2 linked regions of the Homo sapiens genome follow. The protein of the gene in region 2 interacts with the protein of the main gene of each other region in a pairwise test. Each region holds a gene or a part of one and is shown on either strand. Other genes may lie near its edges. The genes, in order: SMIM24 and MEP1B.

Region 1 (3,910 bases), on a different chromosome or scaffold from region 2:
CCACTGGTGATAAGCATGAATCAGACTTGGGGCTGGGGACAGTGTCAGGAAGGCTGGTGGCCAGGCTGGAAACCCCTGACTAGGGACTGGAGGAGGAGAAGGAGCTGCCAGAAGATACAGGAAAGGTGAAGATCCCAGGGCAGGAATGTGTTTGAAGGATTCAGGACAGCAAGGTCATCTGCGCACACCCATTCCCCCACCCCGAGGAGGGGTTCACACAGACCCCCAGCATCCGCACGCATAGTACCTCTGGTCCTGGTATAGGTTGGACTCCATTCTGAACGTGGTCTCCTCCTCGTCCTCAGCCCTGCAGAGATAAAGGGAAAGGTGGAAGGGGGCGGGAGAGGAGAAAGGGGGCGGTAAAGGGAAGGAAGCGGTGTGACAGCCTCAGCCTCTGTCCCAACCTCCCAGCCGGGGCTCATGAACCCCAGGACGCAAGGAAGGGCTGGGCTGCCTGGCTCGTTGTCTTGGGGAGACGGGCGGGTGCAAGCCCGGGATCTGGGCTCTGAGAGTAGAGGTTGGAGGAGCAGCAGGGAAATGGGAGACCTTCGGACTTTGAGGCTGGTGATGGGGGTACCAGAGAGGGTTGGGAAGCTGGGGGTGGGGGCAGGGCTGTGGGGGCAGCGGGGTGGGGGCGGGCACCCACCTGGCCTTGGAACACCAGAGGCGGTTGGCCAGCAAGACCAAATAGACGATGAACAGGAAGCCGACTACCGCAGCCAGGCCCACCAGCCACGGCTTCAGGCGATGCTCCGTGGCTGCAGGAAGTTGGGGAGGTTCGACTCAGAGGAAGAAAAGGTCAGAAGACCCCCTTCCCCCACCACCCTAGCAAGGAGAGAGAGAAGGTCACTGGGGGTGCTCCGACAGAGGGGGTATTGGAAAGGGACGGAGCTTCAGAGACCTGGATGGCGTAGGGGGGTCGGGAGGGTTTAGAGAGGGGGAGGGTACCTTACCAGAGTGGGAGGGAGCCTGGGGGCCCAGAGAGGGGAGGGGCTTATAAAAGAAGGGGGGCTTAGAGGGGACGGAGTTTACAAATCAGGAGGGCTCAGAAGGGGCGGGGCTTATAATGCAGGCAGAGGCTCAGGGGGAGGGGCTTATAAAGGCGGACCTCAGAAGGGCGGGGCTTATGACAAAGGAGTGGCTCAGGGGTGGGGTTTATAAAGGAGAACAAGCTCAGGGGAGGGGCTTATGAAGGAGGAGGTGGCTCAGATGGGGAGGGCTTATAAAGAAGAGTCTGGGGGGTTGGGGCTTACAACAGAGGAGCTGTTGGGGGGAGCTTATAAAAGGAGGCAGAGGCTTAGAGGGAGGGGCTTATAAAGGAGGAGCTCAGAGGGGAGGTGCTTATAAGGGGAGAGGGTCTCAGAGTGGGAGGGGCTTATAAAGGCGGCAGAGGCTCAGGAGGAGGGGCTTATAAAGAAGGAGGAGCTCAGAGGGGAGGGGCTTACAACAGACGAGGGGCTCAGGGAGGGGTCTATAAAGGATGAGTGAGAAGGAGGGGCTTACAGAGGAGGAAGAGGCTCAGATGGGGAGGGGCTTGTGAACTAGGGGGCTCAGAGTGGGAGGGGCTTGTAGAGGAGGCAGAGGCTCAGGGGGAGGGGCTTATAAAGAAGGAGGAGCTCAGAGGGGAGGGGCTTACAGAGGAGGAGGGACTCGGGGAGGGGTTTATAAAGGAGGGAGAGTGAGAAGGAGGTGCTTACAAAGGAGGAAGGGGCTCGGATGGGGAGAGGCTTGTGAACTAGGGGGCTCAGAGGGAGAGGGGCTTATAGAGGAGGCAGAGGCTCAGGGGGAGGGGCTTATAAAGAAGGAGGAGCCCAGAGGGGAGGGGCTTACAGAGGAGGAGGGGCTCGGGGAGGGGTTTATAAAGGAGGAGGAGTGAGAAGGAGCGGTTCACAAAAGAGGCGGGGACTCAGATGGGGAGGGGCTTGTAAAGGAGGCCCGAGCTCAGAGTGGGGCCGAGCTCAAGGCGGGGGGTTCAGCCAGGTGTGCTCAGAAGGGCTGGAGAGGGGAAAGGCTCGGGTGGGCGGTGGGGGGTCCCTTACAGAGGAGGGCAGAGCCCAGCGAGAGGGAGGCCGGGCGGTACTGCGGGGGTTGAGAAGGGCCTCCAAGCCACTCTTCCTTTTCTTCCTGCCCCCTCTCCTTTTTCTCGCCATGGAAAATTGGGAGATGGTGATCACCTGACCAACTCCCCTATCCCGCGACGCCCCCTCCCGCCCCCCTGCACCTACCCTGCTGGGCCTCCACCGGGGAGAGGAGCAGAAACTCCAGCACCAGAAGGGCCCCCAGGGTCTCCATGACGGTCGAGTGAGCCAGCAGCCAGCCAGCGGCGGTCCCGGGTCGGCGTCCACAGGTTTGGTGTGGGCGAGGCCCTGCCTCCCCGTGATAAGGCACAGGCGGTCCCCGGGCGGGGGATGCCTGAGACCTGGGAGCGGGGCCCGCCCCTGGCACCACCTGATTGGGCATCCTGCCCCTCCCCTGCCAGCTCCTGCCCCATCGCTCTCCCTCCGGGAGGCCAGACTCTGGACCTGTGTAACAATTAACTGAGGGAGTCCCTCCTCCCTGCACCCTGCCCTGGGGACCATCAGCCTCAGGGCCACCCCTTTGTGATCCCTGCTGCAGGGGCTGAGCTGAGATGGCTGCGACCTCCCGTCCCGGCCCAGGCCCCGTGCCACTCTGGACACAGGGGGAACTCACAAATACAACTGGAATATCTTAAGAAGGGTGCGCCCACCCAGTGCCTCACACCTGTAATCCCACTACATTGAGAGGCCAACGCGGGCAGATCCTTGAGCCTAACCTGGGCAACTTAGTCAAGCCCTACCTCTACAAAAATAGAAAAATTAGCCAGGCGCGGCGGGCACCTGCAGGCCCAGCTACTAGGGTGTGCTGAAGTGGGAGGATCACTTGAGCCCAGGAGTTTGAGGCTGCAGCCAGTTATGGCCGCACCACCGCACTCCAGCCTGGGTGACAGAGGAAGACCCTGTCTCAAAGGAAATAAAAAAAATTAGAAATACAAAGAGTTACCAAGGCTGGGTACAGTGTCTCACGCCTGTAATCCCAGCACTCTGGGAGGCTAAGGCGGGAGAATCGCTTGAGGCCAGGAGTTCCAGACCAACCTCCTCCCGTCTCTAAAATAAAAAATGTAAAACTTAGCTGAGCATGGTGGCCTGCACCTGTAGTCTCAGCTACTCAAAGAGACTGAGGTGAGAGGATCGCTTGAGCCCAGGAGTTCGAGGCTGCAGCGAGCTACGACTGCACCACTGCATGCACCACCGCACTCCAGCCTGGGCAACAGAACAAGACCTTGTCTCTCAAAGCAAATTTGAGAGTCACCTTTTGTGCTCTCAGAGTACACATGAGGCTCCGTGCTCGGCAATTTCACAGATCGCATTTCCTTTTCTTAACACCCCGTGAAATGGTGCCGGTCTCATTGTGCCCAGGAAAGTCAAGGTCACGCAGCAGGTCTGACCTGGGATTTGAAGCCGGGTCTGCCTCGCCCCCAGCTTATCCTGCCTCGCCCAGGCTCTTGGCCCCTGAGGACCCACAAGCAGCCATGGGAGCACACAGGGACAGGGAAGGTGTGCAGAGGCCACATGCCCGTGGTCCACCTGCAAACCGGGACGCTCTCACGTGGGGATGCCCGGGAGCGTTGATGACTCAGGCTCCAGGCTCTCCTGTCCTCAACCTTGGTCCCTCGGCTGATTAGATAGTGGGCCCTGCCCGGGCGAAGGGGGACCCCGCCCCAGCTGACACGGGAGCAGCCATGGCCCAGACGAGTGGTAGGAAGGCCCGGCGTCATCGCACAGGTGTTTATGGAGCGCCTGCTGAGTCGCTGTCACTTCCTCTCTTCCGGAGGTCTGCGGATGACCGCTGAGCAGACCGGCCACTCAGCAGGATGGGGCTCACACATCCC
Region 2 (3,810 bases):
CACAAGGGTTAAATTGCCATCCACATTGTCTGCAGAATACTCCCTGATATAGATGTTCAGTTGATCACTTTCACTGCCACTGTTATATAAGTAAAATTGCAGGCACTGAAATCCTCTTTTAGGGTACAGCGTTCTACTTTCCAGCACTGCTGTGGCCCCCACATTTACAGAGCTGCTATCGAAATGCATGAAGAAACCAGAACCTGTTAAAGAAAAGCAGAATTGAGAGAAAAACAGATACTGGGTATAGGAATGTGTGTTTGTTAATGGTGGTGCTAGATTCTTTACGCGAGGCATAAGTAACATCCATATATAAATCGCCAGGGAGAAATGACAGAAGCCTAAGCTACATATCTGGCACTTGCAAAAGCTAGCAGATTGACATAACAGTATAAAACTCAAACCTCTCTATTATTTATAAAACGTTTACTTACAATAGTAGTTTTCCGTGGGCACTAATCCTTGCTTATCTTCATTTGTTATGAGCTATAAAGATAAAGCAAGTTTAAGTATCAAATGCTAACTTTTTAAAAATCCACTGTAAGGCTGCAGGTCAAGCCCAAACAGCAGGGCTAAAAGGTAGATTCTACATGGGACACCTTTCAAGTGTCCAAAACCCTGGTCCAGCTCCAAGTGGAAAGAGCTACCATTGGACAAAGATGCTACAGAGGGTTGTTCCCCCGCTGAGAATATGAAAAAGGAAAATGGAAATTAAGTCAAAACGAGGGTTTGAAACTTGGGTGGGTAGAGAGTTGTAGCATCTGTGTCTCCCAAGGGTAATTCAACGTGAACTTCTAGGTCTTTCTGGAAAGGTGAACACACACTGCGGACAGAGGTGAGAGTCCAGCCAGGAAACCAGGGCCTTGGCTGACCTGCCCGCCCCCCTTTTTTTTTTAAACACTTTCTAACTTCTTTGGCTTCAAACTGTCACAAAAAAAGAAGGAAGAAAAAAAGAAAAGGAAGAAAGAAATTCAACTTTCAGAAGATATTGTTAACTACAGCAACCATCTGGGGAGATTCACATTTTAATATTTTTAAAATGATACTTGTAATGAAAAAATTGAGAATAACTGAACCTGATAATTTCAGAGGCACCTCCCACTTATCTGCTTTCATTATCTGCAATACTTAACCTTCTAAGCCATCTCTAAAGAAGGCACAGCTAGTAATTCTGGTTTGAGTGTATATATATTTTCTTTCATTTTTTTTTTTTTTTTGAGACAACGTCTTACTCTGTTGTCCAGGCTGATACGCAATGGTATGATCTCAGCTCACTACAACCTCTGCCCCCCGGGTTCAAGTGATTCTCCTGCCTCAGTCACCCAACTAGCTGGGACTACAGACATGCACCACCACACCCAGCTAATTTTTGCATTTTTAGTAGAGACAGGGTTTCACCATGTTGGCCCAGCTGGTCTCAAACTCCCAACCTCAGGTAATCCGCCCACCTTGGCCTCCCAAAGGCCGGGGATTACAGGCATGAGCCACTGCACCCGGCCCAATTTTCTTTACCTTATTTCAAGTATTCGCTTAGTTTCCACTATATGCAGGGAATTGTGTTGGGCATTTAAATATGGTTCTAGGAGCAGGCGATTTATGAAAGAGACAACATTAGGGAACCTTTCCCTTACCACAGAAATTAGTTTTCAAAAACAGAAAAAAGTGAGAGCTACCTGGTCTGGATTCTTCTTCTTTTCCCCCTCCCTCCCTATCTACTTTCCTCTGGTCTGAGTAGGACCACTATCCACTATCCAAATATGCATTTAAAAAGAAAAATAAAAGGAAAAGCACCTTTTTGCCATTAGAGGCCTCCAATTCCTGCCTAGATCATCTGAGCTATTAAGCACTGGCCCTAAGTTCTGAAGTCTAGTTTTACATATTTGATGCCAGAATAAGCAAATACGTAAAAATTTGGTCCTTGTAGCCAAATAACTACTTAAGGCAAAACAAAATGAAAATGGAAAAGGATACGCATCTGAAGAAAATTAAATAAACTCTGCTTTTTAGATATTTTTGTAACAGGAGCATATAATCACATCCAGCTACAGTTCTGAAACAATAATTCGCAGCCTAGTGCTGTCCATTGGAAAGAGTCTCTTGTATTCTGCAAACTTCTAGGAAACAATAGTACTGCCCCTGAGATAAGAGGCCTTGCAGGAGGCCCAGTCTGGTACACTCTCCTATGGGAACGCACTGGTAGAGGCATCACAGAGCCCAGCTCTGACTTGTAGAAAGAAAAATAAACTCAGGAAGGAAAAGCAAAGAAATTAACAATGTCTTTATCAGGTGCAAGGCCTACTTCTCAGTAGTAACCTAATGAATAATCATTAATAATTCTGATAGAAATTAGAGATAAAATCCCATTCTTTCATAGAGAAGTATGTGGCTGTAGCCACTGAGTATACAGTCTAGGAATATCTCACTCCTGTTACCTTGGCACTGGCCCATGTTGGAGTGATCACTCTCTGGCCCCCTGGGAACCTGTGAAACCCGTTGCCAGTCAGCATTATCTCCTGAACTTTGGATCATGCCACACACATTTTCCAGTTCAAAACTGCACGAGTCCATAAAACTCAAGGAAGAGGCTACAAAAAGCAAAAAACAATTATTGACACTCATACAACATGATAATCTAAGTAACAAAAACTGAACTTATCACAGTATTAGAAATGCCAGGTTGGTATTACAGGGAACACCTAGCTGATTCTGGATGATGGTGGCTTAAAGATCCCTCTTTATTTGCAGAACCCCTACAAAGAAGGTAATGAATTCTGTAGATCTGAATAAGCTCCCTGCCTGAAGTCTTTTTTAAAAAAAATTTTCTAATTTGTAGAAACCTGAGTCTATACTCCCCTAGTTATTCGAATCATTAAGCCACAATCCAGATTATTTGATCCCATTCATATTACAACTAGACATATCATTTTGGCTAAAAGGAAGTGTGAGTATCAATCTGACCGAGGTTTGAATTAGTAACAGCTTTAAAAACTTGCCTGAGGCATATTCCTACAGGACCCAATTTGTTTTTAGATCTCAACACCAGACGTGGTGAAAAGAAAAATGCTGCTTCCAAGTTGTAGATTGAGATCTGAGTGCTATTCTGTTTATTTCCTGAATATCAAATCTCTATAATCGCAGAAACCCCACCAATGCTTGACAAAATGGCACAGACCATCATTTTTTCCTACATAACAGCGGAAAATATAAGTCATTTCAAAGAACCTGTCACATACAGCAGTTATACAGTTGATTCAACTTTAGGAGATCAGAGTCACTGAAATCCATTCGTTGGCCGATCACATCCTCAAAGTCTGAGATTCTTGTGACAATTGTCGGCTCTGTTCCATTTTGGAATGCAGTTTTACTGTAGTGCATTACTGAAGTGTAATCATAGGGAACATTCAGGGAATCTGATATATCGTCACTATAGGTGTTAAAATTGTGCTCTCTGCCTAAAGGATAAATAAAAAATCTTTACTTGATGTTCACAAAATTCAGCTTATCTTACTCCAAATACTGCTCACTTAGAAATGGAGAATATAATAAACTCAAGCAATTTTTGCTACAACTAACAACAGTTTCATTATTCCCATCTTACAATATAATATTCAAGCTTAGAACTGTGATACCAGCAGTCACACTGAACATATCTAAGGTTCTATTGCAGCCCATAGTTAGGACATTGGCATTTAGTCTAAGGCTGTAAAAATTGCTCGTGGAAAGGAGGATTCTAGAAAGTGCTGCTAACCAGCCTGGGCAACAAAGTGAGACCTCATCTCTAATAAATATTTTAAGGCCGGGCGTGGTGGC

Evidence for each region.
Region 1: the proteins of MEP1B (region 2) and SMIM24 interact in a protein complementation assay, tested with the Homo sapiens proteins (one study listed by IntAct).

Annotation. Positions count from the first base shown.
Region 1 is NC_000019.10:3,478,172-3,482,081, forward strand, and holds the start of SMIM24 (small integral membrane protein 24 precursor), read right to left. Parts: upstream 2,355-3,910; 5' UTR 2,293-2,354; coding exon 2,226-2,292; intron 759-2,225; coding exon 647-758; intron 308-646; coding exon 248-307; intron 1-247.
Region 2 is NC_000018.10:32,206,894-32,210,703, reverse strand, and holds part of MEP1B (meprin A subunit beta isoform 1 precursor), read right to left. Parts: intron 3,453-3,810; coding exon 3,234-3,452; intron 2,586-3,233; coding exon 2,433-2,585; intron 204-2,432; coding exon 1-203. UniProt on the Homo sapiens protein: Membrane metallopeptidase that sheds many membrane-bound proteins. Exhibits a strong preference for acidic amino acids at the P1' position. Known substrates include: FGF19, VGFA, IL1B, IL18, procollagen I and III, E-cadherin, KLK7, gastrin, ADAM10, tenascin-C.